3 separate regions of the Homo sapiens genome follow, and all the other regions are reported to be linked to region 2. Evidence: microRNA targets listed by miRTarBase, many of them from high-throughput screens and not tested one by one. Region 2 holds a microRNA gene; each other region holds the end of a gene's coding sequence.

What was found. The annotated mature microRNA hsa-miR-4668-3p reads GAAAAUCCUUUUUGUUUUUCCAG and lies in region 2 at 2,816-2,838, shown strand. An mRNA with a match to its seed (bases 2 to 7 or 8) in the 3' UTR can be bound and repressed. Matches are read on the target gene's strand: a 7mer-m8 pairs with bases 2 to 8, a 7mer-A1 pairs with bases 2 to 7 and ends in A, and an 8mer does both.
Region 1: the mRNA of ZNF792 is a reported target of hsa-miR-4668-3p. Seed matches in the 3' UTR shown: 7mer-m8 at 3,183-3,189 and 7mer-m8 at 3,157-3,163.
Region 3: miRTarBase lists GALNT5 as a target of hsa-miR-4668-3p. Seed matches in the 3' UTR shown: 7mer-m8 at 1,304-1,310, 7mer-m8 at 1,649-1,655 and 7mer-m8 at 3,269-3,275.

Annotation. Positions count from the first base shown.
Region 1 is chr19:34,953,474-34,958,705 of GRCh38, forward strand. It overlaps ZNF792 (zinc finger protein 792), which reads right to left. Exons shown (of 4, transcript NM_175872.5): 4 at 2,881-5,232. The coding sequence ends at 4,483. Among named protein-coding and RNA genes, the nearest start is that of ZNF792, 8.1 kb to the right of the region's middle.
Region 2 is chr9:111,929,332-111,934,563 of GRCh38, forward strand. It overlaps MIR4668 (microRNA 4668), which reads left to right and starts at 2,769; the gene lies at 2,769-2,838. It overlaps UGCG (UDP-glucose ceramide glucosyltransferase), which reads left to right. Exons shown (of 9, transcript NM_003358.3): 6 at 169-347; 7 at 1,940-2,026; 8 at 2,839-3,028; 9 at 3,496-5,232. The coding sequence ends at 3,666.
Region 3 is chr2:157,310,461-157,315,692 of GRCh38, forward strand. GALNT5 (polypeptide N-acetylgalactosaminyltransferase 5) reads left to right here. Exons shown (of 10, transcript NM_014568.3): 10 at 748-5,232. The coding sequence ends at 888. Among named protein-coding and RNA genes, the nearest start is that of ERMN, 13 kb to the right of the region's middle.

The DNA.
Region 1 (5,232 bases), not on the chromosome of region 2:
CATATATAAAAACCCATAGCTAACATCATTCTCAATGGTGAAAAACCAAAAGCTTTCTGATCAGGAACAAGGCAAAGATGTCCTCTTTCTCTGTTTCTGTTCAACATGGTACTGGAAGTCCTAGCCAGAGTAATTATGGAAGAAAAGAAGTAAAAGGCAGCCAAATTGGAAAGGAAGAAGTGAAATTATTTCTGATCCCAGGTGATATTATATGTAGATAATTCTAAAGTTTTCACACACACACACACACAAAGACTTAAAATTAATAAATGAATTCAGCAAACTAGCAGGATAAAAAAAATCAACACAGAAAAATGACTTACATTTCCATACACTAACAATGAACAATCTGAAAAGGAAATCATGAAAACAGTTCCATTTACATTAGCATCAAAAGTAATAGAATGCTTAGGAATTAACCAAGGAGGTGAAAACTTGTACAATGAAAACTACAAAACACTCCTGAAAGAAAGCAAAGACATAAATAATGGAATGAAATTCCATATTCACAGATTGGGTAACTTAATATTATTAAGATGTCAATACCACCCAAAGTGATCAATAGATTTAATGGAATCCCAATAATATCTTGTGCAGAAATATAAAGATCCATTCTAAAATTAATATGGAATCTCAAGGGATCCTGAACAGCCAAAAGAATATTGAAAAAGAACAAAGTTGAAGGTCTCACACTTCCTAATTTTAAAACTTACTACAAAGCTACAGTAATTAAAACAGCATGAAACTGGTGTAAGGACAGACATACACACCAACAGAATTAAAATGGAGCTCAGAAGTAAACCCTCACATATATGCTCAAATGATTTTTGACAGGAGTGCCAAGACCAACCAATGGGGAAAAGACAGTCTTTTGAACAAATGGTGTTAGGAAAATGGGATATCCACATGCAAAACAGTGAAGCTGGACCCTTACCTAACACCATACACAAAAATGAACTCCAAAAAGTGACTCAAAATGAATCAAAGACCTAGATGTAAGAGCTAAAACTATAAAAACTCTTAGAGACATAGGTGGCAATGGTTCCTTATATATGACACCAAAGGCAAAGACACCAAAAGAAAACATAGACAAATTGAACCTCATGAAAATTTAAAATTTTCTGATCAACGGACACTATGAACAGAGTAAAACGGTCCACAGAATGGGAGAAAATATCTGATAAAGGATTAGTACCCAGAATATACAGAAAAGTTGTAAAACTCAACAACAAAACAACCCAATTCAAAAATGGAAATAAGAAGCCGGGCGCAGTGGCTCATGCCTGTAATCCCAGCATTTTGGGAGGCGGAGGCGGGCAGATCACGAGGTCAGGAGATCGAGACCATCCTGGCTAACATGGTGAAACCCCATCTCTACTAAAAATACAAAAAATTAGCTGGGCGTGGTGGCAGGTGCCTGTAGTCCCAGCTACTCGGGAGGCTGAGGCAGGAGGATGGCGTGAACCCGGGAGGCAGAGCTTGCAGTGAGCCGATCGCGCCACTGCACTCCAGCCTGGGCGACAGAGCGAGACTCCATCTCAGAAAAAAAAAAAAAAAATGGAGATAAGGAGGGGTGAGTGAAAAAAAAATGGAGAAAATACTTGAATAGAAATTTCCCCAAAGATATACAAATGGCCAGTAAGCACATGAAATGATACTTAAAGTCACAAATCATTAGGGAAAGCATATCAAATAAGATACTACTTCACACCCATTAGAATGGCTACCACCAAAAAAAACAAAAACAAGTGCTGGTGAGGATGTAGGAAAACAAATTTTTTTTTTTTTTTTTTGAGAGGGAGTCTCACTCTGCTGCCCAGGCTGGAGTGCAGTGGCGTGATCTCGGCTCACTGCAAGCTCCGCCTCCTGGGTTCACACCATTCTCCTGCCTCAGCCTCCCAAGTAGCTGGGACTACAGGCGCCTGCCACCACGCCCAGCTAATTTTTTGTATTTTTAGTAGAGATGGGGTTTCACCGTGTTAGCCAGGATGGTCTCGATCTCCTGACCTCGTGATCCACCTGCCTCAGCCTCCCAAAGTGCTGGGATTACAGGCATGAGCCACCACACCCGGCTCTGAAAAATTTTAAACTTTGTTTATTGTTGGTAAGAATGTGAAAGGGTGCAGTTCTGTGGAAAACAGTGTATGTCAGGTCCTCAAAAAACTAAAAATAGATTTACTATATCATCTAGTAATTCTACTTCTGAGCATATACCCAAAAGAGTTGAAAGTAGGGTCTTGAATAGATATTTGTTGTGCACTCAGGTTCAGAGCAGCATTATTCGAAATAGGCAAAAGGTGGAGGCACCCCAAGTATCCATTGACACATGATAGAGAAGCAAAATGCAGCACATACAAGGAAATACTAATCAGCCCTAAAAAGGAAATTCTGACATATGCTCCAACATTGATGAACCTTGAGAATATTATGCTAAGTGTGAAATAAGCTAGCTACAAAAAGACAAATACTTATTATTCTACTTATATGAGGTACCTAGAGTGGTCAAATTCATACAGACAGGAAGTAGAATGGTGGTTTTGAGGGGCTGGGGAAGGGAAAATGGGAAGTTATTGCTTGACAGGTACAGAATTTCAGTTTTGCAAGATTGAAGAGTTCTGGAGACGAATGGTGGTGATGGTTACATAACAATACGAATCTACTTAATACCATTGAAGTATACACTAAAAATGGTTAGGATAGTAAATTTCATGTTAAGTATATTTCATCAGATTTTTTTAACATTTTTAAATAAACCATAAAAAACTATGGTGCACTCACCCAGTATAGCACTACTCAGTAGTAAAAGGAATGAACTATATATACACACAGCATGGATGATTCTCAAGATAATTATGCTGCATGAAAGAAACCAGACCAAAAGAGAGTATAAATACTTTATGATTCCAATTGTGTTAATTCTAGAAAAGGCAAACAAATCTAAAGTAAAAAATGTAAATCAACGGTTTCCTAGGGAAGGCAAGGAGGGAATGTAAAGGGGCATGAGGTAGCTTTGCAGGTGATGGATACGTTCATTATCATGATTATGGTATTGGTTCCCTGAGTGTACATAATATATGTACAAAACTTACCAAATATGAATAATTATTGCATGACAATCACATATCAACAAAGCATTAAAAGAAACTGTTGCACATAAAAATCCAACTTCCTACTCATTTTAGAAAATCCGATTTGGCAACCCTATATTGACTCTGTCATCTCTTTCTTCTTGCCTTGGGAGCAAAGAATGGCTGGCTACGTCATAGATACTACAGTCCCTATAGTATAGGATCTGCTTTTTCTCAGTCCCTATTTTCCTGCCAGCACAGCACTGGCCTTCAGATGCACAGCACGGAGATGGTAATCCACAAAACCAAAACCTTTAGATTATTTGCTCTGCCAGTAACATTAGTCATAGGACAGAGGTCTGAGGTCCTGAGAATTTCTGCAAACCCTGAATCCTGCACAGCCACATTCAAGGGAGCATTCACGGATGCACATTTAGCAGAGTTCCATTTCTGCTGGTTTGCTATAATCTCGCCTACTCCCTATTAATCACATCCAGTGTTTCTGTACAAATTATGGTCCCAGCTGGGCCTGGTATGTCTTACAGTTAAGAGATACCTGCCTAATGCTGAACTTCAGGGCATATGGCTCCTTGGCAGGTGCTAAACAGCATCTGCTTTACAGTATTGGGGAATATGGGGCACCCCCTGGGAATAAGGGACCCAATTCATGCTGTTCCCACATGCACTGGAGGTTGTCACAACTGCCCCCTCCTCGGGATAAAAATTCACGCCATTCAGACCACAATATTATACCCATAAATTCCTACAATTTTTCCTAGGAGGCCTTGGTGGCAATGCAAATGAGGTCAAATCTGGATTGACAGTTGTTTCTCTGCCATCCTCCTGTCCCCTCCAAGATAATCTGGAGACCCCTTCAGTTTGGTAGATCTTAACTCTGCTCTTGAACCACCCCACACAGTGATCAGAACATGGAAGACTAAAGGCGGCTTTATCATAAGGCCATTATCATCACATGAACCAGGGCAATACACAGGAGATAAGTTGTTGTGTAGAGTAACATGAAGGCTGGACAAATCCTTCACAGGCATAACATGAGACCAACAATGTCCCAGAAAAAGGGAAACCTTCTCTAGAACAAGCTGTTGGCAAAACCCTGCTCAGGTCTTCACAGCCAAAAGCTGGTCATGTCCATGGCTAAACCAGCCATACAGGGCGGGAATGACATCTTCCCAAGGCTTCAGACTACTCCTAATTCCCTTTAGGGATTGGAAAGAGAGAGGAGAGGTCTGCCTTCCCTGAGCACAGTGGAGTGGTGGACACACTCTTTGGAGAGCTGCAGTGTGTGGTGCTGACATGGCTTCTATCACAACCCCAGCAGTGAAAAAACGCTGATAAACTCTACAGTAAGAGAATGTAACTTGTCTCCAGAAAGCTTCCAACACAGCTAGCATTCCTAGGGAACCTCCCCAGGGTGGGTACTTGGATGAACAAGTTTCAACTTGTAGTTGACAGCGCCCTGATAAGGTCTGTTCTCAGAGCTTATCTCTGGTGTGTGCTGTGAACAGGGAAGGAGCACATTCTCCATGCTCCTTTCTCTGATGTGAATCTTCTGATGCCGAATGAGGGTAGGCCTTTGGTTGAAGGCTTTCCCACATTCGCTGCATTCGTAAGGCCTGTCTGGTTTGTGAACTTTCAGGTGCTGCCTCAGATTGGACCTCTGCCTGAAGGTTTTCCCACATTCGCTGCACTCATAAGGCCGCTCGCCGGTGTGAAGTCTCCGGTGGTTATTGAGGCTGGAGCTTTGGTTAAAGAATTTCCCACATTCACTGCACTGGTAAGGCCGTTCACCAGTGTGAAGTCTCCGATGGCTATTGAGGCTGGAGCTCTGGCTAAATAACTTCCCACATTCATTGCATTCATAAGGCCGCTCACCAGTGTGAACTCGCTGATGTTTCATGAGGTCAGAGCTTCGGCTGAAGGCTTTCCCACACTCACCACACCCGTGAGGCCGCTCGCCAGTGTGAACTATCTGATGTTGAATGAGGCTGGCAATGTGGCTGAAGAATTTCCCACATTCGTTACACTTGTAAGGTCTTTCTCCAGTGTGAACTCTCCAATGTTTAATTAGGCTGGAGTTGCAGTTGAAAGATTTCCCACATTCACTGCACTCATGGGCACTTCTGCCCGTATGAACCCTCTTATG
Region 2 (5,232 bases):
TCTATGAAAGCAATATTGTCTACCACTTTTTATTCAGGTAGTCTACGTAAGAATAATAAGATATTCACTCAATCATACTTATAAAAAAACCATTGGGAAAAACAGTTCGTGAACACCATGCTTTTAACATGAAATTCTAATCATACACGTTTGTGGTTTTTTGGGCAGGTATATTTTGGAACTTCACATCCAAGATACTATATCTCTGCCAATGTAACTGGTTTCAAATGTGTGACAGGAATGTCTTGTTTAATGAGAAAAGATGTGTTGGATCAAGCAGGAGGACTTATAGCTTTTGCTCAGTACATTGCCGAAGATTACTTTATGGCCAAAGCGATAGCTGACCGGTAAGACAACTAAATGAAGCCATAGTATTTTTATTACCTAACTTCTGTTGGTTTATTCTTTTTGTTCAACCTATAGATTAGGGCTTTTTAATTTAATTTTATTTTTTTTGCTAGTAAGTACAGAATAGGTCAATAATTTTATTATTTTGTTTGTTTTTGAGACAGAGTCTTGCTCTGTCACCTAGGCTGGAGTGCAGTGGCGCGATCTTGGCTCACTGTAGCCTCTGCCTCCCGGGTTCAGGTGATTCTCATGCCTCAGCCACCAGAGCACCTGGGACTACAGGCATGTACCACCATGCACACTAATTTTTGTATTTTTAGTAGAGATGGGGTTTCTTCATGTTGGCCAGGCTGGTCTTGAACTCCTGAACTCAAGTGATCTGCCCACCTCGGCCTCCTAAAGTGCTGGGATTACAGGTATGAGCCACCACACCCAGCAGATCAATAATTTTATAGAGTAATTCATATTCTAATTATAGAATTGTAGATATGTACTAATGAAGAAGGTAAATGTTCTGATTCCTCTACATTTTTCAAATTAATGTGTTTTAAAGCGATTAAAAGTAAGTTTCTCTGTGTTTAGAATTTTTACTATATAGATACAAATTTCTGTGTTTTAGAAGAATTAAAACTATCAGTGCAGTCATAAACTAGTAGGTGAAAATTTAAAGACTATCATTTCAAAATTTGAAATTTGTCAGTGAATTATATGATACTTTGCTAAGAAGCCACTGAAAGATTCATATGACTGACTTAGCATTTCTCTATCACAAAATACTTGTTTTGTTTTGGTTTTTTTTTTTTTTTTTGAGACAGTCTCGCCCTGACATCCAGGCTGGAGTGCAGTGGCGCAATCTCGGCTCACTGCAGTCTCCGCCTCCTGGGTTCAAACGATTCTCCTGCCTCAGCCTCCCAAGTAGCTGGGATTATAGGCACCCGCCGCCACACTCAGCTACTTTTTTTTGTATGTTAGTAGAGGCGGGGTTTCACCATGTTGGCCAGGCTAGTCTTGAACTCCTGACCTCGTGATCCGCCCGCCTCAGCCTCCCAAAGTGCTGGGATTACAGGCATGAGCCACTGCATCCAGCCTAAAATACTTGTTTTTAAAGGAGATCACTGCCTTGTGTGAGAATTCTTTTAAATTTTTTAAAAACTGAAGTGTGTTTTAAATACAAATTCTGTCATGATTGTGTTCATGTGGTTCATGGTTTCCTAGTGTCTCCCATGAGATCCATAATGCCACTTTCTGTTTACATGTCTTGTTGTTTGGTTAGTAGTCATCAGAGACTAATCTATTAAATATGGAGCCCTCTCCATTTTTTTTCAAAATGACTGCATTTTAAGTTTCTTAAATTGTAAAGTAAGGTGGGTACAGTTTCTTCTAGTTCTTAGATGGTGCTGTCACGGGCCAGCATAATTGCTAAAACATCCATACGTATGGTAGACCTTAAGTCATGTGCTAATCATGAAAGCTGGGCTCACCCTGAATACCGGCAGTTGCCTGGTCTTTATAATGATTACTGAATGCATAACCAGTTACGCTTGCATGTGTTCATCATCATAACTTATTTTCTAATTATCTTAATTTTCAGAGGTTGGAGGTTTGCAATGTCCACTCAAGTTGCAATGCAAAACTCTGGCTCATATTCAATTTCTCAGTTTCAATCCAGAATGATCAGGTAAATCAACTGTTTTCTTTTTATACTTCGTTAAAAGGAAAGTGGGGAGGGGGGTGGTAATTTTTACAGGTTTAATGTAGTTAAATGAATGTACCTAAAGGTTGAAGATTTTTGTTTAGTTGCAGAAAATAGAGTTTAACGTCTGTGTTTAAGATAAATTTAATGTCTAAATGTATTTTATTTGCTGTATAACACTGAAAGCACTCATTAGAGAAATGTTGAGACTGAATTTTTTAATATGCTGATCTTTATTTTCTAACTTTCTGTGCTGATTAAATTTTATTATCTGTATTCATCAGAGCGTAGGCCATACAAATGAATTTAAAGACATTTTTCTTTGACATCCTAGACAAAAATAGAAAAGAGAGTCATTAAAAAAAATTTTTAGGTTGTGTGTGGTGGCTCACACCTGTAATCCCAGCGCTTTGGGAGGCCAAGGCGAGAGGACTGCTTGAGCCCAGGAGTTTGAGACCAGCCTGGGCAAAATGGTGAAACCCTGTCTCTACAAAAAATGCAAAAATTAGCCAGGTGTGGTGGCGTGTACACCTGTGGTCCCAGCTACTTGGTGGGATGAGGTGGGAAGATCGCTTGAGCCTGGGAGATTGAAGCTACAGTGAGTGCCACTGCACTCCAGCCTGGGTGACAGAGCAGAACCCCGTCTCAAGTAAAAAAAAAAAAACAAAACAAAAAAAGTTTAAAGAGAATGGTCTTTCTATCACAGGGTAAAAAAATTGATTATTTGAGGGAAAAAAAAAAGGATTTGTCTTGTAGCCAGGATATTGTTTTAAAGAAAATCCTTTTTGTTTTTCCAGGTGGACCAAACTACGAATTAACATGCTTCCTGCTACAATAATTTGTGAGCCAATTTCAGAATGCTTTGTTGCCAGTTTAATTATTGGATGGGCAGCCCACCATGTGTTCAGATGGGATATTATGGTATTTTTCATGTGTCATTGCCTGGCATGGTTTATATTTGACTACATTCAACTCAGGGGTGTCCAGGTATGTGGATAGGCATGAAAAGGTTGGCAGTCCCTTGGTGGAACTAGAACTATTTCAATTTAGAAAAAGTTGAAGGAAATGTATCTGAGCCATTCTTCAGCTTCCCATTGTAGGTTAGTCTCGGGTTTGAACATGACTTTCTCTAGTGGAATGTTGATGCAAAACTTAAGTCGATTTGCAACTTTCTATTGGTTATATAATCGCTTTTATTAAGTTTCCAAAAACATGAAGTTAATTAAATCAGTGAGTATTGAAACTAATAAGACATTAAGATAGCAGTTATTTTAATGCTTCATTAACAATTAGCATTTTCTTGAACGGTATAACATGGCAGTTAAATTACATAAGGAAGCAGACTTGATTTTACATAGTATACTTAGAAAAGTGAAATCCAAGAATTTAATTTTTTAACCTTGTCTTTAGTTTGACAGTGAGTGAAATTAAAAAATTTTTTTTTCCATTCCTAGGGTGGCACACTGTGTTTTTCAAAACTTGATTATGCAGTCGCCTGGTTCATCCGCGAATCCATGACAATATACATTTTTTTGTCTGCATTATGGGACCCAACTATAAGCTGGAGAACTGGTCGCTACAGATTACGCTGTGGGGGTACAGCAGAGGAAATCCTAGATGTATAACTACAGCTTTGTGACTGTATATAAAGGAAAAAAGAGAAGTATTATAAATTATGTTTATATAAATGCTTTTAAAAATCTACCTTCTGTAGTTTTATCACATGTATGTTTTGGTATCTGTTCTTTAATTTATTTTTGCATGGCACTTGCATCTGTGAAAAAAAAAAAAAACACATCTGTAGTCTTGGCCAAATGATACACTTTATTTTGTGGAAGTAGAGAATCAAGAGAATTGGTTCTAGGAACCTGGGTTCGTTCATCATTGTTGTTTATTTTTTTAAAATAAATAAATAAATATATATATAGATGCTCTGCAACAAACTCTGTGACAGTATCCTTCAGTAGAGAAAGTTTCTTACTTGTGAGTACACTCTTTTAGAACATTTACGGGTGGCAGCAGCTTTGCTTTAGAGTTTAGAAGATAATAGAAGGAATGACTATTCATGTCCAAAGTGAATGGTTTTGTGCAGTGAACAACACATGGCGAGGTACTAACTGAGAAACTTTTTCATGCTTTATGCCTACCTCTTGTAGTTGTTGCAGAGCAAATATAAATTGTAATAAGATAGCTAGGCCTTGCAGAAACAAACAGAAAAACTTAAAAAAAAATGATATAAGAGCTGGAGTCTAGTATTTATATGAATCTGTGAGAGATAATTTTTTTGGTCTCACTGCAATGAACCAAAAGCGGCTGAGTTTGGTTTTTAATTGTAGCCATGTATTGAAGGCATCTTTTTGACCAACTCTTGTTGGTTCTGTCTTGAACCATTGTTAATCACTGTGCTGTAATTAGTATAGCTAAATCTTTTCCTTCCTTGCTCCTCCCCCAGCCCACCCCGTCTTCCCTTAACATTTTTTCAGGGGGGGTTGGGAGTGGTTTCATTTTAGTGTGAGTGGATGTTTTGATAGTTGTAAGGAAAAAATGCATTTCAGACACATTTCACACATGAGCTATTTTCTTACACAGTATGTCTTATTGTTAATAAGAATGTAATTTCATGATACAAGTATTTAATACCTTTTTTAAGTCAGTAAATATTCTAGCCATCAATAAATTGCAGTAGAGTATTAAGAGGGGACAGGATGAGTTTACTCTTAAAATTAATCAGTATCAAACTAAGTCTACTGTGTGTGTTTTTTTTTTTTGTTTTTTGTTTTTGTTTGTTTACTATTATAGTAAGTCTAGTCTTATTTAAATTGGATTTTTGTATTCAAGTTTATATGACAAAATAGACTAGATCAGCGCTGGTTGTAAATGCATGCTGTACCTCACTGTTTTCTCCCCATCATGCCGCTAAACTTGCTCGCCAGGTTGTGCTTAACTTGTGGTGAACTGGACTTGATTCTGTTTTGTTTTGTTTTTTTAAAAAAAAAAAACAAAAATGTAAGGGACAGTGCATAAGCCTTTTCTTTGTTAAGTAGTGGTGTTTTGCTTTTTCTTCAGGATTGGATGGCATGTTGTCCACAGGAATGCCTACTGCAGGGCTAACACTGGCAATATGGCAGCTTTAAATTCTGAGTTACTACAGTCTCCATGTCAAAGCATAATGTGTAGCATATCAGCAATAA
Region 3 (5,232 bases), not on the chromosome of region 2:
TGTAGCAGCAATCTTTAAAATAAATTATTATGAAAGTCACCCCTGTTTGATAACTTTTTAAAGTTTAAAAACAACATGTGTAATTAAGATTGTCTTTGTCATAGTCATACGTAATTAAGAAAATTTATAGATGAAAAAATATATAAGCCATTAGTAAGGTCTATCTAATTTATCTACCATTTCTAGGATATTCACTAAATATTAAGCAATAATATAACTTTCTTTAATGCTGTTGACTTTTTCCTAATCTGGATTTTGGACATCAGTTATTATGAATTGTCAGAGATTATGGTAAGGAGCTCATAAATAAAATACATCACTTCCAGAATTTTGTAATCCAAACTCACAAAGACACCTACTTTAAAAATTAATTAACTTTTTGTTACGGTATGTATTCTTTCTTTACCATCAATGAAGTAGTTATCATCTATCAAATCCAATAAATGTCATCTGTAATGTTTTCTCTTTAAAGAGTATAGTTCTCAGCCATATCATCAAGAAATTTTTCTTTTGCCTCCTGAGGACTTAAAAGTCTTATAGCTTGGTGGAGGATGATTACTTAGTCTGAGACAGAGACAAATTTAATACTTTTCAAAGTCTGTGTTTATGTTAATAATTTAGTTCAGAAGAATTCTTAAAAATCAAAAATATAACTGCCTGTCCATTTTTTTAATTGATTTTCATTTCTTCATATTGCAGTTATCAAATTCAGCCTGTGGCTCATTCCCAGCTCTTCTTTCTCTCCAGGTGAATCACATTGTTTTTGAAAACAATCAGCAATTATTATGCTTGGAAGGAAATTTTTCTCAAAAGATCCTGAAAGTAGCTGCCTGTGACCCAGTGAAGCCATATCAAAAGTGGAAATTTGAAAAATATTATGAAGCCTGAAGTGTAACTGATGTTTTTATATAGTAAACCCATTAAATACTGTGAAAATAACACTGAACTTGGAAACTATATTTCTCAGCGGTAGTTTAAATTTTCAATTTTAATAACATTTGAATGGAAGATTTTTTATAAATCACAATATTTGGAATACCAAAAGATGACTCAGGAAAACAGTCCAACATTGGACTGAAGTCCTTCTTCGGAACTGGGTGGCCTTTGAATTGCCTGCTTTCCACCCTATGCTAGACCTCATCATGCAAATTTCCCTGTGAAAGCTAACAGGTAACTGGAAATGAAGACAGAAGGACTTGAGAAAGCATGAGGATATTCCCAATGACTATGTTTGGTAATAATCAGCTCTTCTGGCCCACAAGTAGGAATGATCAATGAGAACTTAACTTAGTCCTTTATTTGGGGATTTTTTCATCAAACAAAAATTTCTTGAGTTCTTATGGCTAGAAGACCTCAGATGCCCACAGCTGTCACGTTTGTGAAATCCCTCCAGACTACATGCATGCTTACCTAACAGTTTGAAATAGTATTGATCTACTGCTGGTAACCCTGCTTGATGGCAGCATTTTGATCTAAATTACATAATGGTTTTTCCCAATCTGAATCAGTGGAAAAAAATTTAAGTGAGGAAGAAGAGGCCTTCAAATGCTTATTTAATTCTAGGTATGAACACTATTTCAGTTCATTTTGTGCTTTTAAAACTACAGTTTTAAAGATTTATGATACCAATAACTTCCTAGATTCATGTGGATTTTTTTTAAGGCAATGAAAAAAGGCTGGATTATAACACACTGTAGTAATCAAAAATGCATTTAAGCATTGAATGCACTCTAGTGCAGGGCCAAGTAAGAGGAGTTGAAATGAGTAAAGCAGAAATAGAGCTGCTGAAAGTTTCTTTTATATAAAAATAATAAAATACTACTTTAGATATAGTAGCATTCACAGGGATGAAATATGCGAAAAATGGGTTCTAAAATATTTCAAAGGGAAAATGAAGTGAAGGAAACATCATGAAAGGGGAAAGGAATGAGGTAAACAAGTCTTAGGAAGAGAGTTAAGAAAAAATTCCGCTGGACTTGGCCAAAGAAAGAAGGGGATCTAGTATCTCTATGAAGGAAAAAAGAGTAAAGCCCTCAGTGTGAACCCAGTGAGAACACTGACAAATTTGGGAAAAGTTAAATACTGATTTCATCCAAATAAAGCCTCTAATCTTAAGCATACCAATACTTTGGCATACCAGAAGACACCTTAGAAATCAGGATAGCCTTTGCATTCATTTTGGTAAGAAAACTGATGCTGAGAGGATAAATTACCTAAAAATCTTAAAACCCAGGCAAGTTAGTCAAAGAATCAAGATTAGAATTCAGGTTTCCAGAGACAGGGCTCATTCTAATGCCTCAGGTCACTGGCCCGAACAAATCTGCTTCACAGAATTCCTTAGAAAGAGATACACAATTCTTTGCTGGGATTGGGTCCCTGGAGGACAACCATACTATATTCTTGTTAATATGTTTTTTCTTTTTTTAAATTTAAACTTTTGTTCAGTTGAGATGATTGTGAAACTAGGTATCTTTCATTCTGACTCCTAGTTTAACATTTAATTTTGACTCCCAATGAGTTACGTAAAAGCAAAACTATAACTAAGAATGGGAAAAAGAACTATTTCTGCACATTTGTAACATATTTAAGATGTTTTCTTCATATAATTGAAAACTGCAGATGAGTAAGAGAATGACTAGGAAATGAGATACAGTTATATGACACATAATGATGTTTTAGTCAACAATGAACCACATATTTGACATTGGTCCCAAAAGATTATATTAATAATATGGTATCTTTAGTGTGCTTTTCTATGTTTAGACACACAAATACTCACCATGATGTTACAATAGCCTACAGTGTTCAATACAGTAACATGCACAAGTTTGTAACCTAGGAGCAACAGGGATTCCATATAGCCTAGGTGTGTAGTAGGCTACCTACACCATCTAGGTTTGTGTAAGTACACTCTGATATTCACACAATGATGAAATTGCCTAATGACACATTTCTCAGAATGTATTTGTGTTATTAAATGATGCATGACTCTAATTCTTTTCAAAACAGAGCCATATGGGGCAAGGGGGATGGGGGGACGCAAGTCAGTTGTCAAAAGACTAATTGAGTTACTGACAAACTGAACATGCTAGGTGCCTCATGTAATTCTTCATGTAACTAAAAAATGTTGAGAGGTTTTTTTCCCCCGGGTATATAGGCTCTCTTTTTATCCGAAAATAGTTTCCACAAAGAAGTCAACTCTGTTCTGAAAAAAAATGAATTGCATTTTGAATACACTTATCTTTGGGTATATCAACTAAAGGAAGTTGGATTTTTTTCCTTAACAGAAACTTCTGCAGTCCTCTCAGTTCACATCCTTTCTGACTTTACCCTGACAAACTTATTATATAAAGCTATATTTAAATCTATATTGTCAATATAACAAAGGATTGTTTTTGAACATCACAAATTTGTTCTTGGATAGAATTTTATACATTGCTTTTCATCATATATTTGCTCAGTTACTCTAAGAAGCAAGGAACTGATCACTAGTTGGGAATCTATATGGGCCTAAACTTGAGTGTATTGATTTATTATTACATCTACTACCAACATTTTCTTAAGCATAGCCTTCTAAATTTTTTCAGGAGATTAGAATAAAGGTATACATGCTACTCGGTCTTCTGGTAATTCTAGTGATAAACCTTTGGATGAGACAGGTCCTAATCAGCACTGAATTCTTCAATAGGAGGCTGTGTTACAGGAGCTACAGATTTTTCCCTGGATTAGCTTAGGTCATTGCCTTTACTTTAAAAAAAAAAAAAAAAAGTCTATGCATCTTGTTACCTTGAATACAAGGGTGGTCTTGATAATATTTGACAGCACTAACCAACTTACCAAGCCATCTAAGTGCTTCTGAGACTTTTCAGTTTGCACAATTTCTTTCTCCTTTTCAACAGTTACCCAGCGCTTCTGCCCTACTCTCTTGTAAGCTGACACAGTTGTTGTTGGTACAATCTTGTTCTATCACCAGCATCAAATTTGCTTAATACTGCTTGTTGACATCCCCTCAGCTGTCATTCACAGCAAACCACCATGTGCCATGATCACAATGTATTATTAGCTTCGCCACACTAATTTGGAAACATTCTTTTAGATATTAAAACACCTTACTTCTAGTATTAGTTTGGGACTGCAGAGGGGCAAAGATACCATTTACAGTATATAGGAGTCCAATATTCCCAACCAACCTTGATTTCATGAATGGCTTGTAATTATTTCTAGCAGGCACTCATGCAATAGAATAAGATTGAAACATGCCAGAGAGTACCATCTTTCTTTGTTTTAACATCTCTGATTGAATTCCTATATTCAGAATACAAGAAAAAAAATTTACCAACCAGGCGCAGTGGCTCACACCTGTAATCCTAGCACTTTAGGAGGCCAAGGTGGGTGGATCATGAGGTCAGGAGTTCAAGACCAGCCTGGGCAACATGGTGAAACCCCGTCTCTACTAAAAATACAAAAATTAGCTGGGCATGGTGGTGGGCGCCTGTAATCCCAGCTACCTGGGAGGCTGAAGCAGGAGAATTGCTTGTACCCGGGAGGTGGAGGTTGCAGTGAGCTGAAATTGCGCCACTGCACTCCAGCCTAGACAACAGAGCAAGACTCTATCTCAAAAAATAATAATAATAATTTTTACCTCAGAAGAAAGCCCCAAAATCTTGGATTAAAACAAAAAAATGACATTGGGTGATGGGAAAAAAGAAAGGAACTAATTATCATTGAGTGTGTGTAGGTACTATTTGTGTAGGTGCTATATGTGTCCCATCTCACTGATGGGTACAACTCATCAAATGACTCTCATTCTCCCTGTTATATGAACAAGAAGGATAACTCCCACATACAGATGAGGAATTTGGTAAATTGCCCAAGGTCATCCCACAAGTAAGAGATAAAACCCAGTTTCCATTTTATCTGGCTCAAAAAAAATTTCTCTCACTATACCATGCTGCTATATAATTAATTTTCTTCTTTACAAAGGGCTGTCATCTCAGGTGGGTGCATTTAAAAGTTTCTTGGTCTCAGATTACTGATGCCACAGTATTGAGATGAGATTGAATTAAACCCCTTTGGCCTCTTTTGGATGTTGTATAAACAGAAAAAAGAAGCATGGTCTCTCTCTCTCTGTGGTAACCAATTGATGTGTAGGTATAAACATGGCTACCCCCACATGTTTTGCTGTGATCTATCTCTTTGACTTCATGCAGAACCTATTCTTTTTCATCTCCT